4 linked regions of the Homo sapiens genome follow. The protein of the gene in region 4 interacts with the protein of the main gene of each other region in a pairwise test. Each region holds a gene or a part of one and is shown on either strand. Other genes may lie near its edges. The genes, in order: HOXD3, DDAH2, TRIM35 and IGFN1.

Region 1 (7,023 bases), on a different chromosome or scaffold from region 4:
AAATAGATATTATTGACATCTGCTCTGGATAATCTATTCTACCCTACCTCCCACCCAAACCACAACCAATGAGAGAACCTTTCATGACATGATGAATGGACCCAGAATTAGAAGAAGAAAAAAAAGCTAAGAAAAATCCTACCCCTTTTGTATTCCCTTCTTTATGGGGGTTTCCCTTCTCTCCCTGCCTCCCTACTTCTTCTGAAAGGCTCCTAAAGAGTTAAAGTATAACTAATACCATTCAATCACTTTGTCTGTTTGATAAAGAAAACTCATAGGTCAGCTCCCTGGTCTCAATTCTTGATCTGTCTTTCAGGCAACTTTCCTTCCTAGAAACTCTCCCTGGCTTCCATCCTGGTCATCATGATGTACCACATCATCTAGACAGCTTATGTGGCCTAATGGATTTGACCACAGGTACCAGAATGATTCACTAGTTTTCCCTCCACCTGCACCAAACAGCCTAACCCAAATTTTAAAATTCTTCTAATTAGTCTTTGGTAGGTAGTGTTGTTGCCCTTTTTGTTTTGTCTTGTTTTAGAATATAAGTGAGTATGCCATTTGTCTTGATGAGGAACAGGCCCTTAATACCAAGATACTATGTTGTAGAAATTGTTTCCATTATTGTTCTTAAATGTATGTAGGTAGGATATCTACTTAACAAAGCTGGACTTAATTTTTCTTTTGATTAATTTTATATATCATTCTCTGTTAAAAGTTACTGGATATCAAATGGACAGCTAAGTCTTCATTCTGTGACTAATACTTACATATGTTTGCCCCCTGCTGAAGAAAGAGGCACTCTGGATTTGGTTATGTTTCAGGCTTTTCTGGTATCCTGCTTTCAGTCTTAACCCTCTGGAGGCCTAATGGTCACATCGGACACTCAGACTACCAGAACTTGCTGCTGCTCTGTCATTCCATTTACAACTGTGGAAGCAAAACATTCACCCTCCTGCCTCCCAAGTTGACAAAGTTGATCTAGATAGGTGAACCAGTCACGTTAAAATAGCTTACTTAGGAACTGACCAGTTCTTCTGGGACAGATGGCTTTATATATATATTTGCTTCTATGGCATATTCCTAGAAAAAGTTCTGTGTACAGACCTCAAAAGTACAAACATTGGGCATCTTCCTGAAAAACCAGAGTCTGTTTTCCTAACTGTTTACATTGTCTCAAGAAATTTCCCACTCAATGACAATCCACTACCTTAATGTCCATTTCCCCAAAAGCAAGAGCCAGTGATGGTGCTGTCCTTACTGGAAATGGCTTTGCAGTCCCCCAAAAATGCAGTTTCCCAAAAGTGATCCCTCTTAAAACAAAACCTGAGAATATAGTTACAAAACTGGTAAAAAGGCTTATTTCTTTTCAGAAATCCCTACTCCTTGTGAACTCTGCTTGAACCTAAAAAGCAGGAACGGGTCATAAATCACTTGGACAATGGTCAACTGTTCAGTGGCTCATCTTTTCGATCACCCCCTCACCCTTTTTTTAAAGCCTTTCTTTTCTCGCCCTTTGGTACCTTTGCTCATTTGGGCTCCAAGACCCAAATGTCTTGGGGTGAAGATGAGCCAGTGTTGGGGGAGGGGTGGTCGAGCACGGCTTCTCATTTCTTCCAAGTCCTCAGCTGCCCTTTCCTCTCCCTCCTCCTCTCCTCCACCCTCTAGCCCGGGGAACTGGCCAGGGCAGCCTCCCCAAACTCCGCCGGCGCCATCCCCTGCTCCTCCTGGGAAAGGGGTGCCAAATAGGTCTGGCTCGCCCTTTCTTGCGGTGCTGGGAAGTTGCCCAACTCAGCTTGGAGGCCCAACCGCAGGCCCGGAATACAGGGCCAAACGGTCTCCTGCCGGAAGGAAGGTATTCTCTGAGCGGCCACCGCCCGCTTCCCCGGGCCCGCCGGCCCGCCGCAACCGCTGCGCCTCCAAAGCAGCCGAACCCTGATACTTGCTCACCGCACTTAATGCTACTAGAGATCAATACCTAATATGATACCAAATAAATAAAAGGCGCTCACAGCGACCAGGGGACGGGGTTATTAAGCAGCTGGAGCTCTCACGGTGCATATCAATGCACCTGTCATTGTGGTTTGTAGCAAAATTTATGACTGCGACCACGGCGGCAGTAAACGCTTCGGTAAGGAATGAAAAGAAAAACACTTCCCAAGGCCCGGCACTTTTCAGCAGTGGAAAGCAGGCTCCGCGTAGGAGGCAGCGCAGCAAAAGAATTCCCTACTCCGCACTTTTCCCGCTCTTGCACCCTGCGAGCAGCAGGATTATATAAAGTGACCGGCGCCTGCTTCTGCTAGCAGCTCTGCTCGGCGGTCGGAGGCGGGACGAACGCGCGCAGCCTCGCTGGGGACCAAAAATCTGCTGCCCGTGGTGGCCTCGGACGCCGGGAGGCTAGTCCGACTTGCGGAGGCCGGCTCGGCACTTGCTTGTACGCCGGTGGCAGTGGAAAAGCTGAGGGGGCTTGGGAAGGGAGGGGACACCAGGCGCCAGGCTGTGACTAGCGCTGCAATCGTCGTAAATCACCGACGGGTAGAGTCAGCCCATCCAAGTTGAAAGAGAGGGGGAAGGCGATGGAGGTTGCGGTCAGTTTCTCTCAAAATCCGCTAGTGCTCGAGCTGGTCTCGGCGCCTCCCCCTGTTTTGCCTAAACCAGGGTCAGAAGCCCACGGATCTCTTTCTGGCGGCCAAGACTTTTGCTGAGCATCCCCACGAATTCACTGGAACCGAGCAACGATTCTCCCTTTCCTGTTGGCTTTGCTACTTCGGGATTCGAAACCACTGGTTTTTGGGTTTGCTCGAAAGGAGACTTCTTTACGTTCCGCCCAAGTTCTCCCGATCTCTAAGCTTGAGCCTCTTTTGCTCTATAAGAAGACCTGGACGCGCCTTCTAAATCACTCTTATTTAGCCCAGATAACTCAATACTGTAATGCACCCTGTATTTAAGGCACTGGGCTTGCCCCATTAAAGCGCCATAAATTTGAAGGCCAATGATCGGTTTTCATGTAACGGGTGGTACTTCATACTGAAGTGACCCACTTCAAAGCTGCCCTTTGTTCTATGTCTTGATGTATGAATTTTGAGATGGCCACCTTGAGTTGCAGAGGGAAATGTACTGGAAATTATTATTTAAATGATGCCCACTCACCACAATTATGTATGTGTGTGTTTTCTTGAATTTTGTCTTTATCTCTTTTTTTTTTGTAGGCTCTTCAGGTTTCTTTTGATATCTGTGGAGGCGAATCTGGAACAAAATGGAAAACTCTCAGTAGCAGCCGGTTCTTGCTTACAAACACTTACATGTTGAAGGGCTTTTCCCACTTGAAGGACGTCATAGTCAATGTGACTATTGTATATGGTACCCGTGACCATCCAGACGCCTTCTCCCCGGCAAAACACAGACTCAGTTGGCTCCTGGGGAGCGAGGGCCCCTTTAACGCCAAAATCCATGGCTGGATGGGGGAGGGGAGAGCCCGGACGTGAGGGAAGCGCCAGACCCTCTAGCCAGGTGGGTCAGAGGTGCAGGGAAGCCAATCTGCTCTCCTCCTGCCCCTACCAAATTCTAAATGCTCCTCCAGGTCCCAATCCCGGAAGCCAAACACTCTCCTAGGGGCAGAAGAGAGAGACCGTGCAGAATTAAGGTGGGGGTTTGGCAGGGGAGGCTGCAGAAAAGGGCACCAGGAAAGGAAGGTAAATAGGCTTGGGTGGATCTTGGTCAGGGGCTGCTCTACAGAGCCTCAGTGAAGAGGACCTGGGCGCTAGTTCCTGATTTATACATTAAATATATCAGATGCTTTCCCTGAGTTTATTCATTCCGGTAAGTATCCACCACACTCTTGGCCCTGGGCTGCCCACTTCTGGGTCAGGATCAGACTGCAAATCGCCTAAGAAACAAACATCCTTTCCACCCCCACCCAAAGCCACAGACCAAGCTCCCCCACCACTGTCACCGCTCAGCGGGTGACCACCCCCCGTCAGGTGAAAGGAGAGAGACAGAGTCCCCCTCTTGCATCTGCCCTGTGCAATTTGTCGACTCAGTAGTTTGCGAGCACTAAACTACACCCGGGAAAGCCTCACACAAAGCGTTCCCGGCGCTTCTAAAGACTAAAGCGCGCAGCCATAAGCCTTTGAAGTGACCTTTGGCTCGCACCGCAATAACTCACCCCTTAATGAACACCCAACAGAAGCGCCTCGAAGAGATCCCAGCCCGGTAGGGCTCCTAACTTCGCGCTGCGGCTTCAGCTTCCCAGCCGGCCTGGACCCAGGGGGAAAAGCCACTTGCCCGCCCCCCTCCCCCAAGCGCTCTTGGCTGGGCCGGGACCTGAGGGTGGTGCGGTGGAGGCCCGAGGTACCAGGGCTCTCAAGCCAGCTGGTCCTGTAGCTGCTTTATATAATACATTCACGTGGGCGGACGTCAACTTTCGCCGCTTGATTATTTTTTATTTATTTATTTTTAAAAAAGAGTTCTTTAGAAGTAGGAGCATCCCCTCAAAAGAAGAGCTAAGTTGGGAGGTCACCCGGGGCCGCCACCCCCTTATGCCTCTAGCTAGATTTTTCTTTTTCCAGCCGCGGAGGAACAGGGTAAGTTTGCGCCTGGGGGTTCCGGGGTGCGCGGTGCGCTTTGAGCTCTTGGCGTAAGAGGCTTGGGAAGAAGAAAGGAAAGAGGACCCCAAGTTAACCAAAGTTGGACCACCAGAAAAGCCTTCAGCACCTTCTCCCACGCTCCCTACCCTGCCCACCCACCATCCCACGCGGGTCCAACTTTGGCTCCTTGTTTGCCCAGATTCTCAGCCTTAACCGGGCTGGCTTTGGACCACCAGCACTGGTGCTCTTTCTGGAGCCAAAAACGGGAAGAGCAGGAAGGAGCTGCGTCCGTGAGCTGTCAAGGAAGAGCTGAGTCCAGGCAGCCCCAACCCTACACCTCATCCCTCAGCAGCACCCTAGGAAAACTCTTTAGGATAGGGCCAGCGTGGAGCCTTGGTAGGGATTATTGAAATTTTCGGGGGAAGTTATAAGTGAATGCTCCATGGGGCCAAATGAAATGCTACTCGCGGTAATTGGATTCAGCTGACTAAGCTGGCAGGCGCGCAGCTTCAAGGCAGCTAGCAAAGAAAAATGTCCAGCGACTTTCAGTTCTGATGAAGCCAAGCGCAGGAGATTGACAAAACAACTTTACTGCTCTCTTATGATGGCGAAGCCCCTGGAAGTCGGTTCCTCTCCTGCTAGGGCCTGTCCCAACCTAAGCTAAGGGAATGCTCCTTGCTTTTGAGGTTCTTTCCCCATAAAGGTCCGGTTGGGTCTGGCCCAGTGGCATTACCACGAGCATGGAACCACTCACTGGAGCTCCTGGAGCTGCTCACTCCATCCCTGGCACGGAAAGACCCGGGATGGGTTGTCTTCTCCTCTCCCAGCCAGTAGCCACAGGGAGCAAGTAAACAAAAGGAGAGATGGGATTCGTGAACCAATATATGATTTAGCTTTCATTCAGGGTTCTTTGGGGAGAAGGACCTAGAAACACTAAACCTTTTCTCTGCCACTACGGCAATCAAAAGCCTGGATTGGTAAAGGGAAATGTGGAGGAACCTCCCAAACTCTTCTGGGTAGTTTGGAGGTTCTCTCAAATTTTGGGAGGAAAAGCTCAGTAGCGTTTTAATCTCCCAAGAAAAAATTAAGCCAACAGCAAGAGGTAAAGGCTGTGTGTGGAGCTCGCTACCGGAACAATGCAGGGAGCTGGCTGACCACCGAGTTTATTTTAAATACATATAAATCAACCCGCCTGCACCCAGCCCGGCAGCTCAAGACACAGAATTAATATGACGCTCCATCTTACTTTGGCAGTAAAGTGTAAAAAAGTTTTAATTTCTTTTTCAGCCCATTCTCCTAAGTGCACATTTAGCCCCCAAATATTTCCTCCAGCACTCAATCCCCTCACCAGATCCCCTCCTTAAACTGCTACTACCACCCCCAATGCTGCCGGCCACCCTCCAAGCCTGGCAAGGTAGTGTCCTCCTAACCCTTTGGTAGGCGGGGAACGTCCCCACAAAGCGCGCCTTGTTACGATTAATCACCGTCCTCCATGTATATGTAGCAGTGTATCTAGGTCTACGCGGGCTGCCTCACCAATTGGCAATAATCAAGATCACAGATTACACAAAATAAATCATATTTAATATCCCGCTCAGGGCGGCAAGCAGCCCCGTGCCCAAAGATTTCCATTTTGTCATGCAATTGCTTACCTGGATCCCAATTTATCATAAACCTGGTGTCCTCGGCCTCAGAGTGGGCGCCAGTGGGGGGCAGAGCTAGCCTTCCCCCTTTGTCTGCAGACAACACTGTCCCAACCCTGGTCTTGCGCGCTCGCAGACACGGCCATATACTCGAGCACACGGAATTCCCGGTAGAACGGAACCAGGCTGAGGTTCAACTACCAATAAACGCAGGAGGAACGAGTTCGTAGTCCCCGAGCTGGCTTCGCCTGCGCTGCGCGCCCATCGGTCCACCCGCCCGCCCGTCCGCTCTCGGGCCCAGAGCGGCAGCCACCCGCGCCCCCACCCACTCCTGGGTTTCTGCCCAGCCCTCCCAGGCCCCCCAGAGCTTGGGATTTGTTTTGCTTGCGGAACGTGGTCGTTTCTGGATTTGGAGAGAGCCCCGGAAACCCCCTCATAGTCGGGAAATACAGACGCTGCCTTCAAATGCAAGCATATTTGTTCACGTGACCCCGAGGGAAGCTTGTACTGATTGAGGCTGAAACTTTCACGCCACCCAGTCCCGGAGCGCAGCCAAGCCTGGGGGCTGGAAGGAAGGGCGCAGGAGGCTTGGGACCTGGGCCCCATTCCTGGGGCAGACGCGGATGGGTGTGGGGCGGAAGGAAAGAACACATTTTCGCAGCTCCGGGCCGACTCAGTCTTGGCCTGGCCGCCCTCAGTGGGTTGGGGGCGTTGAGAGTCTCTCCCCACAACGACCTCTGACCCTGGCTGGGCCTTCCGCCAGACTGGTCCGGGAGCTGGAAATTTTAGAAACT
Region 2 (6,642 bases), on a different chromosome or scaffold from region 4:
AAAATTAGGATGACAATACCTATTTCATGGGTTGATATAAATTTTTTTTTTTCTTTTTTTTTGAGATGGAGTCTCGTTCTGTCGCCCAGGCTGGAGTGCAGTGGTGCAATCAGCTCACTGCAACCTCTGCCTGCCGGGTTCAAGCAATTCTCCTGCCTCAGCCTCCTGAGTAGCTGGGATTACAGACGTGCATCACCACGCCCAGCTAATTTTTGTATTTTTAGTAGAGACAGGGTTTCACCATGTTGGCCAGGCTGGTCTTGAACTCCCGACCTCAGGTGATCCACCTGCCTCGGCCTCCCAAAGTGCTGGGATTACAGGAGTGAGCCACTGCACCCGGCGATATAAATGAGTTTGTAAAATGTAAAGTGTTCACTTTGGGAGGCCGAGGCTAGCGCACCACCTGAGGTTAGGAGTTGGAGACCAGCCTGGCCAACATGACTGGTCTCTACTGAAAAAAATACAAAAATTAGCCAGTTGTGGTGGCAGGCACCTGTAATCCCAGCTACTCAGGAGGCTGAGGCAGGAGAATCATTTGAATCTAGGAGGCAGAGGTTGCAGTGAGCCGGGATCATGCCACTGCACTCCAGCCTGGGCAACGGAGCAAGACTCCGTCTAACATAAAATAAAATGTAAAGTGCTTAGAATAACACATAGAAAAGTAACTACATGAGTGTTAGCTATTATTATTTTGGACTCACCATTAGTATCCACCCCCAACGGGCCTTTTCGGACTATGTCAATCTTTTCCTGAAGTTCTAATCAGTTCCCTCTCTTGCACAGATCTGGAGAAGGGACTCCTGAAAGCCCTGAAGGTTTTAGACAATTACTTAACATCCCCCCTCCCAGAAGAAGTGGATGAAACCAGTGCTGAAGATGAAGGTGTCTCTCAGAGGAAGTTTTTGGATGGCAACGAGCTCACCCTGGCTGACTGCAACCTGTTGCCAAAGTTACACATAGTACAGGTGTGTGGTTATTGCGGGAGGAGAGGATGACCACTGGAGTGGCCCTTTAAGGAGCTCCCACATGGGCTTCCCCTGACAACCACTCTAAAGACGATTTCTTTCTTAGGGTGGTTTTCATAAATTGCTACCAATGGCAGACCCCACCCCAGTCCTTTGCAGCAGTCATTGCTAACAAGACCACTGCTTGAGATAATTATATTCCATGATGTAAGTCATGGGTGCAAACAGACTAGCAAAGAGGAATACATCCCAGTATTACTTTTGAAGAATGCTCTTCCTGTCTCGGTATCACTGCCAAATTCCCAGATTAGACAGAGCAGGCTTTTCCTAAAGTCAAAGCTTTAACTTTCTTTATAACTTCAGTCTTCACTTCCTCTTGTGGAAGATCAAAACTGCTGGTTCCCATGTTTTTGTCATAGTCTCAAAGCTATGGTTTAGTTTGTGCAACATGGGCCTGACATCAGTCTGCCACACAACTATGTAGTGAACATCTGTGTACTAAGCATTGAAAGATACACAAGTGTATGGTGACTGGGCCTTGCTCTCAAAGGGTTGAAATCTGAGACAATAAAATATTCACATGAAAGTTAAGAATATATGATGAAAAGTCAGATGGGCCGGGCGTGGTGGCTCACGCCTATAATCCCAACACTTTGGGCGGCCAAGGCTGGTGGACCACCTGAGGTTAGGAGTTCGAGACCAGCCTGGCCAACATGGTGAAACCCCATCTCTACTAAAATTACAAAAATTAGCCGCACATGGTGGTGGGCACCTGTAATCACAGCTATTTGGGAGGCTGAGGCAGGAGAATCACTTGAACCCGGGAGGCGGAGGTTGCAGTGAGCCAAGATCGCGCCATTGCACTCCAGCCTGGGTGACAGCAAGACTCCATCTCAAAAAAAAAAAAGTCTGATGAAAAATATAGAGACAAAAGTCACCTGTGTCAGTGCCTGAAGTGGTATAGGGGGAAAAAGTCACTGTGGAAATTCAAGAGGAGAATTTTATAAGTAAATTATATCTCAAGTTTTAAAAACTCAGGAAAAATGGCTGGTTATTAAAAGCCAGGATTTCAGTAAGTGAGAAGGAAGGCTAACGACAGTACAAGACAGTGAGGAGTTGAGCTGGTTTTATCATGTCGGCCTGGGGAGAAGGGAAAGCCAAGGTGGCTTCCCTGGGTCTAACATGTTGGTCCCTCTCCTCTCCCCATCCTCAGGTGGTGTGTAAGAAGTACCGGGGATTCACCATCCCCGAGGCCTTCCGGGGAGTGCATCGGTACTTGAGCAATGCCTACGCCCGGGAAGAATTCGCTTCCACCTGTCCAGATGATGAGGAGATCGAGCTCGCCTATGAGCAAGTGGCAAAGGCCCTCAAATAAGCCCCTCCTGGGACTCCCTCAACCCCCTCCATTTTCTCCACAAAGGCCCTGGTGGTTTCCACATTGCTACCCAATGGACACACTCCAAAATGGCCAGTGGGCAGGGAATCCTGGAGCACTTGTTCCGGGATGGTGTGGTGGAAGAGGGGATGAGGGAAAGAAATGGGGGGCCTGGGTCAGATTTTTATTGTGGGGTGGGATGAGTAGGACAACATATTTCAGTAATAAAATACAGAATAAAAATCAAGTGTTTTTACGCAATGGGGATTTAAAGTGTGGGCGACATGGAATGAGGGGTGGGTCAGTGATCTTGAGCTCAGGGCAGAAGCCAGGAATTAAGAAGGGAAATGTTTGTGGTGGGGCTGCTATGTTTCGTGCCGGTCCGCCGGTCCGCCGTTGCGCTGTTCTGAGGTCTACGAAGCGTTTGCAGCCCCGTCGCCAGGGCCGGCCAGATCTGGGTGGGCCTGGGCAGCGCTCGCTGGGCGGTGCCGATTTCTGGCAAGGGGGGCGCAGTCTGGATGTAATGGGCGAGGCTTAGCAGGGCGGAATGGGCGTGGCCCGAAGAAGCCCCGCCCCGTCCCGCTTAGACAATGCCCCGGAGCCGCCAGACCGTCGCGCCCCTGCCCCATCGTAGTATATGAGCTCGCCTACACAAGGACCCGCGCTAAAAGCCAGAGCTCCCAGTCCCCGAGGCTTGAAGACGGGGACTCCCTTCTCCACCAACTCTGTCCTCGGGGGGTGGGGCCCCAGCCGAGATCACAGCGCGACAGGAGTGGGGGTGGCCGCTGGAGGTGAGTCTTGCGTGGGGGGCCCTGAACCGTGTGGGGGCCGGAGTTTGGGGGTGCCGGGCCCATGCCTGCACCAGACAGAGAGTATGGGGAGCCGGTATTTGGGCGCGGAGCTAGGCGGGGTGGACTTTGGGACATAGACGGGGAACCGGGTCCTGGAGCCGGGAGTAGTGCCAGCGCCCCGGAACCACGCCCCCTGTTACCCCGCCCCTCGCATTTCGTTTTAGACCTCTCCCAGTCCTTCGGGACTCGGTCTGGTTTATACTAGGTCGCGCTAGGGGCAGCGTGACCAGCCAGGGCGGAGAGAGGATGCTTAACTCCTTAGGCTCGAACTCCTCCCTTCCTACCCACCTCTCTCCCTTCTCGTTCGGGTATTCAGGACTTCCATTCCCCAGCCCCTGCCTCTCCAGCTTTCTCCTTCTGTCCCATAACCCCTGCGGGTCGCGGGCTGGACTTCCAGTCCCTGCGGTAGCGAGCAGCTGAGGGTTAAGGGGGCGGGGCTGCTGCATTTTTGGGGAGTGAGCGCATCCTAGTGGCTGCCAAGAGGGGCGCCCGACAGGGACCTCACAAGCCCCCAAGCAGGGGCAACAGGTGTTTTGGAGATTAGAGACCCTAGCCTTGTTCCTCAGGCTCCTCTTAAAGAATCTGACCCCTGAGGGTGCTGGGTAGAGTGAGGTCGACAGGAGCGGAAGGTCTGGAGTGGGTGGGGCGGAGTGGGAGGGACGCCTAGAGATGGCAGGAGGAAGACCTGGGCGCTCTTAACCACCCCCAACGCCCTTGTCTGCATGTCTTTTTCTCTGTCTCCTCCTTTTCTGTTTCTTCTCCCAGACAGGTGAAGAAACAAGAAAACTAAGAAATCCGAGCGGTTGGAGGGGGAGTCTGTGTGGATGGGATGGGGACGCCGGGGGAGGGGCTGGGCCGCTGCTCCCATGCCCTGATCCGGGGAGTCCCAGAGAGCCTGGCGTCGGGGGAAGGTGCGGGGGCTGGCCTTCCCGCTCTGGATCTGGCCAAAGCTCAAAGGGAGCACGGGGTGCTGGGAGGTAAACTGAGGCAACGACTGGGGCTACAGCTGCTAGAACTGCCACCTGAGGAGTCATTGCCGCTGGGACCGCTGCTTGGCGACACGGCCGTGATCCAAGGGGACACGGCCCTAATCACGCGGCCCTGGAGCCCCGCTCGTAGGCCAGAGGTGAGCGCCGTGGCGCGGGTGTGGTATGGGGAAAGGCAGAAGGAACTGGATGTCGGGGCTTTGGGGAAGAATTGAGGATGGGGGTGTCACAGCTCCGTGCCCTCTTCTCCTATCCTAAGGTCGATGGAGTCCGCAAAGCCCTGCAAGACCTGGGGCTCCGAATTGTGGAAATAGGAGACGAGAACGCGACGCTGGATGGCACTGACGTTCTCTTCACCGGTGAGGCTGGGGGGAGGCATAGGTCTTGGCACAGGGAAGTAGAGTTTGGGAGACTCGGCCGTCTGGAGCCTTGTTTCTAACTCACTCCCGCCCTCAAACCTCCGCGGCCTCCCGGACTCAGGCCGGGAGTTTTTCGTAGGCCTCTCCAAATGGACCAATCACCGAGGAGCTGAGATCGTGGCGGACACGTTCCGGGTGCGGAGCGGGACCAGCCTAGGGAGGGAGGGGGTGCAGGTGGGGGTCGGAAGGGCCTGGGCGCCCGCTGAGGAAATGAGAGGCAGAGAGCAGCCTATGTTTGAAGATACCCCATCACCCCTCCCGCGCCCCTGAATACCTCCCTTCGCTCTCCCTAGGACTTCGCCGTCTCCACTGTGCCAGTCTCGGGTCCCTCCCACCTGCGCGGTCTCTGCGGCATGGGGGGACCTCGCACTGTTGTGGCAGGCAGCAGCGACGCTGCCCAAAAGGCTGTCCGGGTGAGGAGGGGGCGGGGCCAACGAAAGTGGGCGCAGTTCTGGGCCCGGGAGGCCGGGAGCTGGGAGGCTTAGGAAATTAGCCCTAACCCCTGCCCTCAATGGGCTGTCCATCTTACATGAAAGAACACAGGAGAAAATAAGAAGTTACAACAGCAGGACTGGGAACAGGGGTGATTAATTTGCTCTTCCGGAGTTTCAGGAAACCCCAAAGGTGGCACCTAAACTGTGACTCTAAGGATGGGTAGGACAGATAGGAGGGGCTGGGGAAGGTAGGGGGTTGAAAATAACTGCATGTGATTCCAAGGTGGAAATTAGCAAAGGTAACTAAAGTACTTAGTGTCTGACATATCGTAAGCTCTATGTGCTTGCTGTCATTATTTTCCACAAATGTCAGTCCGTCCCCAGCCCTTAGTGGTGGTTGAGCAGGCAGACACAGCTGTGGAGAGGTTCTGAGACTCGAACACTTCCTCTTTCCTCTAGGCAATGGCAGTGCTGACAGATCACCCATATGCCTCCCTGACCCTCCCAGATGACGCAGCTGCTGACTGTCTCTTTCTTCGTCCTGGGTTGCCTGGTGTGCCCCCTTTCCTCCTGCACCGTGGAGGTGGGGATCTGCCCAACAGCCAGGAGGTGAGAGAGGGCAGGAACTCCAACACCAAGCACCATCAGAGAAAAGAGTTTCAGGCTTTCCTAGTGGGAGGAAGGAAGGGTACCTTCTCTAGAAGCCTGGGTGGGGCCACTCTGAGCTGGCTGGAAGAGTGGCCTGGCTCAGCCTGAGGTCTCACTCCCCTCTCCCCACTCCATGTCTTCCCTGTGCAGGCACTGCAGAAGCTCTCTGATGTCACCCTGGTACCTGTGTCCTGCTCAGAACTGGAGAAGGCTGGCGCCGGGCTCAGCTCCCTCTGCTTGGTGCTCAGCACACGCCCCCACAGCTGAGGGCCTGGCCTTGGGGTACTGCTGGCCAGGGGTAGGATAGTATAGGAAGTAGAAGGGGAAGGAGGGTTAGATAGAGAATGCTGAATAGGCAGTAGTTGGGAGAGAGCCTCAATATTGGGGGAGGGGAGAGTGTAGGGAAAAGGATCCACTGGGTGAATCCTCCCTCTCAGAACCAATAAAATAGAATTGACCTTTTAGACTGGGCTGTGACTGGTGTCTTACTGGGGCAAAGGGATAGGGCAGGGCTGAAACCTGAGTTTGGGGTCAGTGCAGGGAAGAAGGCCTCTTATTCAAAAATCTTGTTAGGTACTTATCAACTCATTGCCCAACCATGTCATAGGTACTTGAGCACAAGATGAACAAGACAGAATTTCTATCATGGGAAGTGTGTCCAGGGCAGAGAAAAGAGTGTATGGGTGGATTGCTCACTGAATTTATCTAAATGTTAGATGATTCAGAGACTGGTAGATTACCAGTCCACCCCTATTTGATAAAGAAAAAGAAATGACACTTCCAGGGACATTCATTTTCATTCATTCATTTAATGAGGCTTAGCAATGATATCAAAAGGGTCAGTCTCCTGACGTTGGGGAGCTCACAGTACATGCAAATTTCTTACAAATTGAAATACAGGTTGTCATGGAACAATTTACAGAAGGCTGTTTCTATGAGGGAAATAAAGGGGGTGCGCCCTAGG
Region 3 (7,430 bases), on a different chromosome or scaffold from region 4:
CGTTTTTGTGAGCATTAAATTTGTTGACGTGTGAACACTGAAAAGCATCTAGCACACAGTGAGCACTGAAATGTGTTAGCTGGGATGATTTTGACTTTGCTGTTCCTCACATAGATAGTTGGCAAAGTAATCTTTCTCTAAAACACACATCCCATCACAAACTCCCCTGTTTAGAATCTTTCAGAGCTCCCCACAGCACAAAACGGAAAACCCCCTCAGTGAGGCACACAGCTTCTTACCCAGTCCCTTCTTACCAAGTGGTGGAGGGAATCTTCCCATACCGCTCCCCCACAACCACCTACCTTGAATCACACAGAACTACATCTTGTCTATTGACTGTCTATGCCCCCTGCTCAAATGAGAATTCCATGAAGCTAAGAAGAGGCCACAGCACACAACAGCCATCAGTACCCATTTGTCTAGTAAATGAGTGATTTGCACCCTGCATCAGGCTGACCACACCTGGCTCTCATTCTTCTCAGATCCATTTGGGACTAGACTACTCAGCCCCTGACATCATCCTGAGTGTCCACTGACTTGACACCATCATTCTTCTGCTAAAACCCCCAGCTGCTGTTCACAGCAAGGGTGAGCCACCGGCCTCCTGGATCCTCCTGCACGTCCCTCCTCATTCTAACTACCCTTAAATTCCCTCAGTGCCTAGAAAGTCAGGCTTTCCCACTTCTGGACCCTTCCAAATGCTGCTGCCTCTATCTGAAATACCCTCTTTCACCTGGCTAACACCTCCTCTTCCCTCGGGTCTCTGCTGGAAGCTCCTTGAGGCTGGAAATGGTCTATCTTGTCTCCTGCAGTATCCCTGGGACCTTGCAGTACCAGGCATCTGCTGGTGCATGGCTCTCTGCTCTTGAATCCTGGCTTGGCCCCAGCCTGGGGGCTCTGCCTGGGTGTTCTCAGCCCTGACCCCAGCATCTCCTGATCAGCACCTCGGCCAGCCAAATAGGCATCAGTCATGACCTGAACCATGATCCCTCCTTTACCTGGGCCCCAGACCCCTGGCTGGCCAGCACTTATTCCAGCTGTCCCAAATCAGGATCTGTCACTTCTGCCAGTGGAAACAGGAAAAGCATTGACATGGACCCATGTTAAACAAAAAAGATGACAGGAGTAACAGGGTTACTCATTGAGACATGCGTACTGACAGCATCCTTACATTCCCCTTCAATTAAACTTTGTCAAATGCATTTGGAGCGGAACAGACTTCCGTATTTAAAAAGGTATTGCAAAAAAAGAAGGCAGGGCCACAGAGGGGGCCAGAAACCAGGCACAGGGGACTCGGGCAGCTCCTCCTCTCCAGTCCATGCAGCTTCGGGCCAGCTACCCAGTGTTCTCCCAATTGGGGCTCTGACTCATGCATTAGCAGGTGATGAAATAAATTCAATGTTTCACATTCTGGGTAATTTTTAAAAGTAACAGAGGCCAGGCGGAGTGGCTCACGCCTGTAATCCCAGTAGTTTGGGAGGCAGAGGAGGGCAGATCACTTGAGGCCAGGAGTTCCAGACCAGCCTGGCCAACATGGTGAAACCCTGCCTCTACTAGAAATTAAAAAAAAAAAAAAATTAGCCAGGCGTGTTGGTACATGCCTGTAATCTCAGCTACTCGGGAGGCTGAGGCACCAGAATCGCTTGAACCCAGGAGGCGGAGGTTGCAGTGAGCTAAGAGCACGCCACTGCACTCTAACCTGGGCGATAGAGGTCTCAAAAAAAAAAAAAAACAAAGGGAAGTAACAGAAAATATCAGAGTGCCATGGACATGTTCAGAAAACTTTTGTTTCAACTGATACATATGTTCTGGGTCACAAGGGAAAATGCATTGCTTCCTATGGGCTAAGATTAAACGTTTTGGAAAATGCTGAGTTAGGCTAACCCTTATCTTCTATTCATTTTTCCTTCCTATATCAAAGAATTCTCCATGTTAGTTTTGCCCTGTAAGTTGCTCCTGGGTTTATGTATAGTCACTAGAACTCTAGATATGGAGATGCTGCTTTATAAACCAGAATAGGCCAGCCAGCCAGGGTCAGAGACCTCTCACTCAGATAATACAAACCGCGGGATCAGCTTGGCAAGTAGGTGACTGGTTTGGGGGAAATCTTAAGACTCCACACCCCTGGCCAGGTCTGTGGCTCCTCCTCCACTTCTAAATTGAGTGTGCCAAGCTACAGGGCTCGTGGGCTGCACCCACATCCGTGCCGCTTAAAGGGACCTGGGCCACACCCGGCTGGCACAAGGGGTGCATGGCCTGGGCCCTTCAGAAGCAAGTGTCGCTGTCTTGGGAACATCATGTAACCTCATCTGTCACTTTCCGTTCGCATTCTCTTCTCCCAGCACGGGCCCCTGGGCCGACCTTGAAGAAGCAGCCAGCCCTGAGAACCTGGGTCGGAGAGGTGGGGTCCTGCATGCTGGGAGCGAGACGCGGGCACACTGGGCTCTGGCAGGCAGGAGGGGCGGGAGCCGCAGAGCCAAGGGATTCCGGGTTCCAGACCCGGCTCGGCCGCCTCGTGCAAATCGCTGCTCTTACCCGAAAGTCGTGGGCAGTGTCCTTCACCGGCTGCACGCGGTGCCCCTGGTGTCGGGGGTCGGCCTGGCAGGAGCAGCACAGCAGCTCCTTGTCCTCGAGGCAGAAGAGGCTGAGCTGTCCGCGGTGCAGGCGGCAGACACGCGAGAAGCGGTAGCTGGTCCAGCGCGCGCCCTCGGCCTCCTCGCGCAGCAGCTTCTCCACCAGGTTGTTGAGGGTGTGGTTGGTGCGCAGGTCGGCGGGTGACGCGCGGTCTTTGCACACTGGGCAGGTGGGCGACACCTGCACCTCCCAGCAGCGGCTCACGCACCCGCGGCAGAAGTTGTGGCCGCAGCGCAGAGTGACTGCGTCGCGGAAGGGGTCGTAGCAGACGGCGCAGAGCAACTCCTCCTTGAAGGAGCGGGAAGGCCCGGGGGACACGTCGGGACTCCGCTCCATGGCACGAGCAGCCGGCTCGGGCGCCCGGAACTTTTGCTCCGGCCCCTCCCACCCGCCCGGCTGCCAACGCCCGCGACCCGAGTGCTGGGAATCGCCCAGTCCCTTCCCCTGGAACGCTGAGAGACAGCGGCGCTGGCCAATCGTGCGGGGGGGATGGCGAGGGGGAGGGAGGGGGCGCTCGGAGGAGCCCCACCCACTTCCGGTGTGCGCGGGAAATCTTGGGAGAGCGGGGTGGGCCTTCTGCCCGCAGTTCCCGCCTCCTCAGGTCCGGGCGGGTCCCTGGCCGGGGTAGCACGGAAGGGTCTCCCAGGCGGCGTAGTAGGGCTTCCGTGTTACTGGAAACCTACTTCCGGCTGCAAATGGGAAAAGGAGCCTCTACCTTAACCAATCCCCGGGAACCTCAGGCCCGCGGATGGGAGAAACCAGAGATGCCAACTTCCTGCTTCCGAAGTAGTGGCTGGGTCTTAAAGCACCGTGAGTGCAATCACCACTTAAGTTTGCAGCGCCTTTTTGAGGACCTATGCCACTCTTGCATTAGTCGTTTACTTATTTTGGCCAGTCTTCTTCTGGCCCGCCGCGGTAAGGAGAAACAAGAGAGGGGTGGCGGCAGAAGAGCTCCGAGAAAACCTGATTCTTGTCCTGTGGTTGAAAAAGTGAACAGGTCATCATGTTTCAAAGTCCATTTACTCATGAGTACAATGGCTGTAATAGCTCTGTTTCCATGAAGTGTGAGGATAAAGTGAAATAAATGTGGAAAGTGCTCATGACAACCACTGTTTTAATGGGCAAGTGCCCATTAAAACAGTGAAATTGAGGACTTCTGCAAAGTTTAGCTGAGATAACTAGAGTTCATGCTCAATTCTTGCCAGGTACAGTAGGCCTGGATGGTTCCTTCAGATCTTCATTCCTGCTTCAGTTTGATCACTTTACAGCCTCCAGATGCAGAATACTTTTCACACGATGCACTTTCATTCCTTTTCTATTGGGAGACAATTCACATGTGTCATGTTCCTGCATGTCTTGAGAGAGCAGAGGCACTGACTGCCTTTTTCCAACTATCTTTTCAAGGATGTTTCTGCATTGAATAGCCCTGGAAGACAGAATTCTTGTCTCTCCAAAGATCTGGCAGACTTATTCCCAATTATAAGAGATGTGAGTTTCCTAAACTTGGGGCCCCTCTCCTGTAATGCAACCTACTGTAGCCTTCATCACATAGTCTTGCAAGAATTAGGGCTCAGAAACTGGCCCAATGACAATACTGTGACTACTATTATTGCTGTTAGTATTATCCTTTGTCTCTGACCCAGGAGTTTCATCTTTTAGCAGTATTCATGAAATTTTGGCATGCAAACTTGTTAGTGTTGAAACTCAGAAAACAATACCCCAAAATGGCCTCAAAAGCAGAAATTTTTCTCTGCCCTCCTATCTCTCAGTCCCCCAAGGATAGCCATAGAAATTAGAATTCCTTTTCCCCAAGGCAGGTCATAGAAACCAGAACCCCTTTTTCCTAAAGCCAGTCTTGAAACCTTAAAATATTACTCTTTCTCTCTGCCTTTCTGTGGAATAACTGGCCATAAAGAAATTATCTGACCTACCTTGTTTGACTGTAGGCCATAAGAGCCCGATTCCAGAGAGGGTCCTACCCCATACCTGTTAGGGGTAGAAGGTGTCTGAGTTAACAGCAGTGAATCTGTATGGGTCTGCAGCAACCTCAATTCTTGCCTCCTTGGAAGAAAGAATTAGACTGAGGGGCATGATATGGTTTGGCTGTGTCCCCACCCCAAATCTCATCTTGAATTGTAATCCCCATAATTCCCACGTGTCAAGGGAGAGACCAGGTGGAGGTAATTGAATCACAGGGGTGGTTTTCCCCCCATGCTGTTCTCCTGATAGTGAGTGAGTTCTCACGAGATCTGATGGTTTTATAAGTGTTTGGTAATTCCTCCTGTGTTCATTCTCCTTCCTGCAGCCTTGCAAAGGAGGTGTCTTGCTTCACCTTCACCTTCCACTGTGATTGTAAGTTTTCTGAGGCCTCGCCAGCCATGCGGAACTGTGAGTCAATTAAACCTCTTTCCTTTATAAATTACCCAGTCAGTCTAAGGCAGTTCTTTATAGCAATGTGAAAATGGACTAATACAGGGCATAAGGCAGAAAAAGCAACTGAGGCAAGTTTCAGAGCAAGAGTGGAAGTTTATTAAAAAGTTTGGGACAGAAAAGAAAGTACACTTGGAAGAGACCCAAGCGGGCAACTTGAGGGACAAGTGTGGCATTTAACCCTGATCCTGGGACTTCATATGCTGGCCCACTTCTGGAGTCTTGCTGCCCTCTCCCTTCATTCTTCCCTCAGTGTGAGCTGCCCGAATGCACAGTGCCCTCCCTATGCTTGGGAGGTGAGCATGCACCATGTGCTTAGGAATTTGTACACATGCCCATCTGAGGCTTTCTTCCCTTTTCCAGTGGAATGCCCCCGGAAGGTCATACTCCACTATTTTGTCTCTTAATGTGCATGCCCAAGCTCACTCACCCAATTTCTGAAATTTTATTGGAAGCTGATTACCAATCTCAAGTGTTTTTATCTGTTTGGGAAATTGCCTATGCCTGGCACCTGCTTTAATATCAATTAACATCAAGTAACACTTTAGTGACAGCTGTGGACCATCAGGGAATTGTCTCTCTCCCTCTCTCTGGCCCATCTGCCAAATTATCCATTTTAGAAAGGCAGTGTGATAACTGTGAAACCATCACCTGGCATTCTTGCTTGAGGGGATTGGGGAGGGTAGAGTCCTCTCCTGCCCTGCTCATGCCTGTCTAACTACCTGTAACATACCTGGAAGGAAGAAATGCATGTTCGTAGAGGCCAAGAAAAATCTAGACAGACAGGCCTAGGTTCCCCACTCAGTTTATTAACATTAGCTCATACCCTTTTGTTCAATCATATTTCTACACAGCTACTCATACTTTGCTGAACCTAAGCATGAAAATGAGCCATTTCCAGTCTATCTTTAGGTCTTCATTCTGAAGGCTCCCATGTCACATAAAACTATGATCAGGCCAGGCATGGCGGATCGGGCCAGGTGCCAGTGGTGGCTCACACCTGTAACCCCAGCACTTTGGGAGGTCGAAGAAGGCCTTGAGCTCACAAGTTCAAAACCAGCCTGGGCAACATAGCAAAACCCCGTCTCTACAAAAAATACAACGGGCGCGTGTGGTGGTGTGCGCCTATAGCCTGAGGCAGGAAAATAGGGTCTGGAGGCAGGGAACATAAGGCCAATTCACACTTCAGCTGCGACAGCAAATATCCTCCCCATAGGGCGTAGGCCAAGTAAATAACTTTGTAACTTTACTTCATCCTCTCCATTTACATAGGGCGTACCCCAGGTAACCAATGGAGTCCTCCAGAGGGTATTTAAACCCCCAAAAGTTCTGTAATGGGGCCTTTGAGCCCCTATCTCAGGCCGGTTCCCACACTGTGGAGTTTACTTTCATTTTCCATAAAACCCTTCATGCCTTCCCTGCTTAGTTTGTGCGTTTTTTCCAATTCTTTGTTCAAGATGCCAATAACCTGGACACCCTCCACCATTAACAGTCCCAGCTACTCTGGAGGCTGAGGTGGGAGAATCGCTTGAATCCGGGAGGTGGCAGTGAGTCGAGATTGTGCCAGTGCACTCCAGCCCAGGTGACAGAGCCAGACCCTGTCTCAAAAAAATAAATAAACTTCTATCCCTTTCCTCTTCTTAACCTTTTTGTCAGTGATTTGCAGTGAAACTTCAAGGGGCAAAGGAGACGTTTTCCCTTGGCCCACACATTAGCTTGCAAGTAGGGTAAAATCTCAGACCTTTAAAGTTCTTAATAATTTCTTTCCACACTTTTCCTCAGCATAGTCCTTTCCTCACAATGACAAGGGATGAATACCACTAACTCTAATTGCCTTCAGTGTTTCTTAAATGTGGTTCATGGTTCTCCTGCAATTACCTGGGGAGTTTTCTAAAAGCAGTTTCCTGGGCCCACTTTAATCTACTCATCTCTCTTGTGGAAAGTGAGGCCCAGGAATCTTCATTTTCACTTGCATGCTAGGTGATTCTGAGGTGCAAGAAAGTTTGAAAGCAATTATCCTAGATCTATTCACCCAACAAGTTGTTGGGTCTCCAGCTATGGTTGGTTAGTGGTTCAAAAATTAACCTTAGAGGCAATATCCAAAAAAGCCACAAGATGGGGCTAACAACGCTACACTCCAGATAGCCCTCTCCCCTCCCCCCAACGCAGAGACTCTTACGTCGTCTCATTCTCTTTCACTGTGTTCTCTTATCTCTGTGTCCCAGTTGTGTTGTGAATCGATATGTGTTGCTGTCTATGTGTTTCATTCTGTTCTTACCTGATCTTCCTTATTTTGTTGGGTCTTTTTTTTTTCTCATATTCTGAATGGGGCCACAAATCAAAAACAAGAAGGAAGAGTAGAAATT
Region 4 (7,023 bases):
TAAGTACTATTATTTGTCCCACTTTATAGATGAGGAAGCCAGACTGTTTGCCAGCTTGCTTGAAGTCTTATAACTGGTAGTGGCAGAGCTGGGATCTGAAGCCAGACTTAGCTGATACTGAGCCCCATGCCCTGAGTCACTGTGATGTCTCTTGGGGTGACAGCTTTAATGGAGGACAGAGGATTGTGCAGGGAGACGAGGGCCCCCTTCTGGTTGGGATGAGACGATGGCATTTGTACGAGGCCTTGAAGGATGGGTAGGATTCAGCAGGTATGGGTATAGAAGAGGCATTTTGGATGGTGGAAGAACAAGGGGTATGCTGAGGGGCATAGGATACACATCATTTAAAAATCCAATTTTATTTTAAACACACCAAGTTATTGGCTATTTAAACTTCTCCTGAGGTGGATACATTAGCAAAATGAAGAATGAAAAATCTTTCTTTCAAAGCCTCTACGCTCTTGCCCCTCTCTGCTTTACCTCTGTCCCTCCCACTGGTAAAGAGAAGGTGTGAGGGGAGGCAGTACCTTGACGCCATCCTTAAACCAGGTGCCAGGTCCCAGGTCACTGGTGAGGGTACAGGAGAGTGTGGCGGCCTCCCCCGGCTGCACTTCCATGTCAGCCAGGCCCTGGGAGAAGTGGCCCATGGGGCCTGGAGAGACACAGAGGGAATCCCCAGGGCCGAGCGCCCCAGGCCATGGCCTGCGCTGTGCCCCGCAAGGCCACCATGGTCCTGCCAACTGGGCTTGGCTGGTGTCAGCAGGGCTGGTTCCCAGCACCTATGCTATCTTGGCTCCAATGCCCTGGTCTTCCCAGACAGGAGCCCAAGCATTGCTGCTTTTCTCAGCAGGACCTAGGCTGGTCCAGGAGACCTGGGGTGTAAGGTATATGAAGGGCCCCCCCGCCACAGGTGAGAAGTCTGGTAACCCACAGAGAGTTGGGTCAACAACTCTGGTGCTGTGGACATAAGGTTTCAAGAGCAGATACCTAGGAGACCTCTGAGCCTCTCACAGGCTGGACCCCATCTGCGTAAAGAGGAAGAGGTTGCTTCCTAAATTTGCAAAAGATTCCTGAGAATGGGGAGCACTGGCAGGGACAAACTCCTGGGGCTGGAGGCAGAACTGGGACAGACCCAAGCATCCCAGTGGCCAGGGAGCTCCCCACTGTCTCTAGCCCATGGGAGCCAGCTCAGCAGAGAAGCACCTACCTTGGGCATCCTTGGAGAAACTGCCAGTGCCAGGCTTGTATCTGGATGTGGAACTCCGGGTAGCATCTCTCCTCTCTCCATAGATGTCCAACCTGCCGTCTTTGCCACTTCTCCTGCTACCAAGGTGACCAGGGGGCTCCCGGCTCTGATCTTCATTCAGCATCTCCTCCAGGCACCCCCAGTTCTCTCCCATAGGCTGCCACCCCATGCTTCCAGCCTCGTCTGCTCCCCTTCTCTTTCCTCCTCCAACCTCAGCCCCTGACTGTGCCTGAGACCTGCTCCTGAGTGAGCCAGGCCTCCTGCCTGACCTCCCAGCCTCTTCCACTCCCTGCCCTTCATCCTCCTTTAGGGCCCCAGGACCCTGGACCTCACCATTCTCAGCCTCCAGGGACCCCTGCTCCCCGAGGGACCTCTTTCCTCCTCTCTGTCCCTTGCCTCGCTGAGAGCTCAGGTCCTGGGTCCCTCCTGACCTATCTCTAGAGGCTTTTCTGCCAAAGGGACCATCTAAGCCATTCCAGGCTCCCTGAGGTCCGGACTCCCCAGGTTTTGGGGTGAGGGCATTCCCCCACTCAGTAGAATTCCCCTTGCCCAGGATACCTGAGTCCTCTGCATCAACAGAACTGCCCCTTCCAGGACTTGAACCTTTGCTATCCAGGGACCATGGGCTTCGGCATCCACCAGCCGCCTCTTGGCCTGGTGCACCCTCCCCACCCTTAAAGCCCCCTGGCCCTTCATGGGTCCCACCAAAAGCGGCATCTTTCTCCTGCAGAGAACCGGAAGCTCTGGAGCCTGCGGGCTGCTTCCCAGCATCTATGCTGCCTTGGCTAAACCCCTGGTTTTCCCAATCAGGAGCCCAAGCATTGCTCGTCCCTTGTCTATCAGCAGGCCCTGATGTTGACTTGCCCCTTCCCCCAGGCATAGAGCCGCTGTCCAGATCCTGACCTGTCCCCACTGAACTCCCTGAGCCTACCCTTCTGCCTCCCAAAAGTGAGTCCCCACCTCCCTGAGATGCCAACCCCCCCTGGCCAGCAACTCTACCCCTGTCTGTCATTCCTGGGCCTGCTTTCCAGATGTCCCGTTCATATCCAGACCCTAGAGCAGCCATTCCTGCCCAGGTCTCACCTTCCACTGCCCCCTTGCCATCAAGAAACCCAGAAGCCCCCATTATCCCTGCTTGGTCTGGAGACCTATCCTTCACCCTGGGAGCCCCTCTGTCTCTAGAAGACCCTGGAGTCCCAGAACTGTCTTGCCATTCTTTGACATCTGGTTTTCCCTTGGCACCAGCAGCCTCCGAGGCCTCAGGGATCCCTGAAGTTCCATAGCCCCCAAGATCTTTGGTGGAGCCTCGCTCATCTGAAAGAGTCTGTCGCCCTCCCTGAGACCCCAGCACCCCTGTGCCCCTGAGGCTGTCTCTGTGTGCCATGCCACCTGCAGTGCCTGGCATTCCAGCCATCCCAGGTTCCACCCCAGGTCCTGCCCCATCCACAAGCCTGGTTTCCCTGGCTCGCTCTGGACCATCCTTGGAGTTCGTGTCACCCTCTGATGCTACCCAATATCCTGACCTGTGACCCATGGCTTTATGGCCTCTGGGTCCAGCCTCATGTCCTATTCCAGCCAGTGAGCCTGGTACTCCAAGCCTCCCTGAACCATCTCCATAACCCATCTTACCCTCTGGTCCCGTTTCCCCAGATCCTCCTGAGCCTCCTCTATAACTGACCTCACTCCCTGACCCCATGCCACTAGTTCCCCCAAAGCCTTGCCTAGAACCTGCCTCATTCCATGACAAAATGTACCCAGAATCCTCCAAACTACCCCTAGAACCTGCCTCGCTCCCTAATGGATTCCTCCCAGAACCCCCTAAAACATTCTTATAACCTGCCTCATCCCCTGAACTGATTTTTCCAGAACTGCCTAAACCATTCCTGTAATCTGTGTAACTGCCTGAACCCATTTCCTCAGGAGCTCCCAAATCCTTCCTATAATCTGCCTCATCCATTGACCCCATTTCCCCAGAACTCCCTAAACCATCCCTGAAACCTGCCTTACTCCCTGAACCCATTCCCTTAGGAGCCCCCAAATCCTTCCTATAACCTGCCTTATTCACTGACCCCATTTCTTCAGAACCCCCTAAACCATCCCTGAAACCTGCCTTACTCCCTGAACCCATTCCCTCAGGAGCTCCCAAATCCTTCCTATAACCTGCCTCATCCATTGACCCCATTTCCCCAGAACTCCCTAAACCATCCCTAAAACCTGCCTTACTCTCTGAACCCATTCCCTTAGGAGCCCCCAAATCCTTCCTATAACCTGCCTCATTCACTGACCCCATTTCTGTAGAACTCCCTAAACCATCCCTAAAACCTGCCTTACTTCCTGAACCTATTCCCTCAGGAGCCCCCAAATCCTTCCTATAACCTGCCTCATCCATTGACTCCATTTCTTCAGAACCCCCTAAACCATCCCTGAAACCTGTCTTACTCCCTGAACCCATTCCCTTAGGAGCCCCTAAATCCTTCCTATAACCTGCCTCATTCACTGACCCCATTTCTACAGAACTCCCTAAACCATCCCTAAAACCTGCCTTACTTCCTGAACCTATTCTCTCAGGAGCCCCCAAATCCTTCCTATAACCTGCCTCATCCATTGACCGCATTTCTTCAGAACCCCCTAAACCATCCCTGAAACCTGCCTTACTCCCTGAACCTATTCCCTCAGGAGCCCCCAAATCCTTCCTATAACCTGCCTCATCCATTGACCCCATTTCCTCAGAACCCCCTAAACCATCCCTGAAACCTTCCTTACTCCCTGAACCCATTCCCTTAGGAGCCCCCAAATCCTTCCTATAACCTGCCTTATTCACTGACCCCATTTCTTCAGAACCCCCTAAACCATCCCTGAAACCTTCCTTACTCCCTGAACCCATTCCCTCAGGAGCCCCCAAATCCTTCCTATAACCTGCCTCATTCACTGACCCCATTTCTACAGAACTCCCTAAACCATCCCTAAAACCTGCCTTACTTCCTGAACCTATTCCCTCAGGAGCCCACAAATCCTTCCTATAACCTGCCTCATCCATTGACCCCATTTCCCCAGAACTCCCTAAAGCATCCCTAAAATCTGCCTTGCTCCCTGAACCTATTCCCTTAGGAGCACCCAAATCCTTCCTATAACCTGCTTCATTCACTGACCCCATTTCTCCAGAACCCCCTAAACCATCCCTGAAACCTGCCTTACTCCCTGAACCCATTCCCTCAGGAGCCCCCAAATCCTTCCTATAACCTGCCTCATTCACTGACCCCATTTCTACAGAACTCCCTAAACCATCCCTAAAACCTGCCTTACTTCCTGAACCTATTCCCTCAGGAGCCCACAAATCCTTCCTATAACCTGCCTCATCCATTGACCCCATTTCCCCAGAACTCCCTAAAGCATCCCTAAAATCTGCCTTGCTCCCTGAACCTATTCCCTTAGGAGCACCCAAATCCTTCCTATAACCTGCTTCATTCACTGACCCCATTTCTCCAGAACCCCCTAAACCATCCCTGAAACCTGCCTTACTCCCTGAACCCATTCCCTCAGGAGCCCCCAAATCCTTCCTATAACCTGCCTCATTCACTGACCCCATTTCTACAGAACTCCCTAAACCATCCCTAAAACCTGCCTTACTCCCTGAACCTATTCCCTCAGGAGCCCCCAAATTCTTCCTATAACCTGCCTCATCCATTGACCCCATTTCCCCAGAACTCCCTAAACCATCCCTAAAACCTGCCTTGCTCCCTGAACCTATTCCCTTAGGAGCCCCCAAATCCTTCCTATAACCTGCCTTATTCACTGACCCCATTTCTTCAGAACCCCCTAAACCATCCCTAAAACCTGCCTTACTTCCTGAACCTATTCCCTCAGGAACCCCCAAGTCCTTCCTATAACCTGCTTCATTCACTGACCCCATTTCTCCAGAACCTCCTAAACCATCCCTAAAACTTGCCTTACTCCCTGAACCCATTCCCTTAGGAGCCCCCAAATCCTTCCTATAACCTGCCTTATTCACTGACCCCATTTCTTCAGAACCTCCTAAACCATCCGTAAAACCTGCCTTACTCCCTGAACCTATTGCCTCAGAAGCCCCCAAATCCTTCCTATAGCCTGCCTTATCCACAGACCCCATTTCCCCAGAACCTAAGCCACCCCTATAACCTGCTTTGCTCCCTGAACCCCCTCCCTCAGAAACCCCCAAATCTTTCCTATAGCCTGCCTCAATTAACCCCATTTCCCCAGAACCCCTTAAACCACCCCTGTAACCTGCCTTGCTCCCTGAATCCATTCTCTCAGGAGCTCCCAAATTTTTCCTATAACCTGCCTCATCCATTGACCTCATTTCTCCAGAACCCCTTAAGCCATCCCTATAACCTGCCTTGCTCCCTGTGCCCATTCCCTCAGGAGCCCCCAAATCCTCCCTATAACCTGACCCCATTTCCCCATAACCTCCAATCCCATTCCTATGACCTGACTCATCCAGTGACCCCATCTCCCCAGGACCCCTTAAACCAGCCCTGTAACCTGCACCCATTCCCTCAGGAACCCCCAAATCTTTCCTATTATCTGTTTCATCCATTGACCCGATTTCCCTGGAACCCTTTAAACCACCGCTATAATCTGCCTTGCTCCCTGAACCCGCTTCCCTGGAATCCTGTAAACCACCCCTATAATCTGCCTTGCTCCCTGAACTTATTCCCTCAGGAGCCCCTAAATCTTTCCTATAACCTGCTTCATCCATTGACCCCATTGCCCCAGAACCCCCTACACCATCCCTATAATCTGCCTTGCTCCCCGAACCCATATTCTCAGGAGCCCCCAAATCTTTCTTATAACCTTCCTTATCCACTGACCCCATTTCCCCAGAACTCCCAATACCCTTCCTACAACCTGGCCCATCTGCTGATCCCATTCCTTGGAGGCCTCCTGAACCATCTCTAAAGCCTGCCTCACCCCCTGGCCCTGTACTCCTAGGCCCAAGGCCCCTTGACCTTTCTCCATAGGCTGTTCTGACCCCAGTTCCCTGAGGCCCTGGAAGTTCTGATCCATCCTCATAACCCAGCACATTGCCAGCCCCATAAGCCCACTGGCTCCCAGAAGCGGCCCCATTGTGAGGTGCGAGTGACTCAGGGTGCCTGGTATCATCCCTATAACCAGCTCCAGCTCCAGAGGCCTTAGCACCAGGGCATCTTGTCCCATCCCCCTCACCCACTTTGCTTCCTGCCCTCAGAGACCCTGGTCCCATGGCTCCTGGACCCCCAGAGCCATCTTCATAGCCTCCTTCTCCAAAGGCCCCCAGGGCCTCTGAGGCTCTGAAGCCCCCATAATTTCCAGTCTGACCCCAAGGCCTTATTCTTCCAGAGCTCTCTGGTTCTGCTTCCACACATCCCATCCCAACAGTCTCCACTACTCCAGGGGCCTTGAGACCACCTCTACCCGCAGACCCTGTCACCCCAGGACTCCCTAGGCCACCATCTGAATGGTGCCCTCCCCTAGGGTCCATGCCTGCCTGGCATGCAGAGGCCCAATTCCTGGTGTCATTCATGGGTGCTCCATCAGGACCACCTGAGCCATTTTTAAGACTGGCAACTCTCCCAGACCCTCCTCCTGCAGGGCCAGAATCTTCATTTCCAGACCACACTCCCCCAGGCGCTCCGGAGCCATGCCTGTACCCACCCCCTTCCTCAGACTCCACTCCCGCAGGTGCCCTAGGGGAAACTCTACAACCAGCACCATGGCCGGACCCCATTTCTCCTGGAACCCCTGAGCCATAGCTATAACCA

The links.
Region 1: the proteins of IGFN1 (region 4) and HOXD3 interact in binary tests that used the Homo sapiens proteins (3 or more experiments, as listed by UniProt).
Region 2: the proteins of IGFN1 (region 4) and DDAH2 interact in binary tests that used the Homo sapiens proteins (3 or more experiments, as listed by UniProt).
Region 3: the proteins of IGFN1 (region 4) and TRIM35 interact in binary tests that used the Homo sapiens proteins (3 or more experiments, as listed by UniProt).

What each region holds. Positions count from the first base shown.
Region 1 is NC_000002.12:176,160,296-176,167,318, reverse strand, and holds part of HOXD3 (homeobox protein Hox-D3), read right to left. Parts: intron 6,496-7,023; exon of another isoform or gene 6,239-6,495; intron 4,365-6,238; exon of another isoform or gene 4,166-4,364; intron 4,160-4,165; exon of another isoform or gene 3,247-4,159; 5' UTR 3,151-3,246; exon of another isoform or gene 1,524-3,150; intron 832-1,523; exon of another isoform or gene 1-831. UniProt on the Homo sapiens protein: Sequence-specific transcription factor which is part of a developmental regulatory system that provides cells with specific positional identities on the anterior-posterior axis.
Region 2 is NC_000006.12:31,726,540-31,733,181, reverse strand, and holds DDAH2 (putative hydrolase DDAH2), read left to right. Parts: upstream 1-3,882; 5' UTR 3,883-4,020; coding exon 4,021-4,317; intron 4,318-4,436; coding exon 4,437-4,536; intron 4,537-4,657; coding exon 4,658-4,731; intron 4,732-4,889; coding exon 4,890-5,009; intron 5,010-5,489; coding exon 5,490-5,639; intron 5,640-5,828; coding exon 5,829-5,945; 3' UTR 5,946-6,142; downstream 6,143-6,642. Other genes in the region: CLIC1 (chloride intracellular channel protein 1), read left to right, coding at 784-965, 2,179-2,340. UniProt on the Homo sapiens protein: Putative hydrolase with unknown substrate. Does not hydrolyze N(G),N(G)-dimethyl-L-arginine (ADMA) which acts as an inhibitor of NOS.
Region 3 is NC_000008.11:27,308,266-27,315,695, forward strand, and holds the start of TRIM35 (E3 ubiquitin-protein ligase TRIM35), read right to left. Parts: upstream 3,008-7,430; 5' UTR 2,971-3,007; coding exon 2,536-2,970; intron 2,402-2,535; exon of another isoform or gene 2,241-2,401; intron 1-2,240. UniProt on the Homo sapiens protein: E3 ubiquitin-protein ligase that participates in multiple biological processes including cell death, glucose metabolism, and in particular, the innate immune response.
Region 4 is NC_000001.11:201,207,806-201,214,828, reverse strand, and holds part of IGFN1 (immunoglobulin-like and fibronectin type III domain-containing protein 1), read right to left. Parts: coding exon 1,208-7,023; intron 653-1,207; coding exon 528-652; intron 1-527.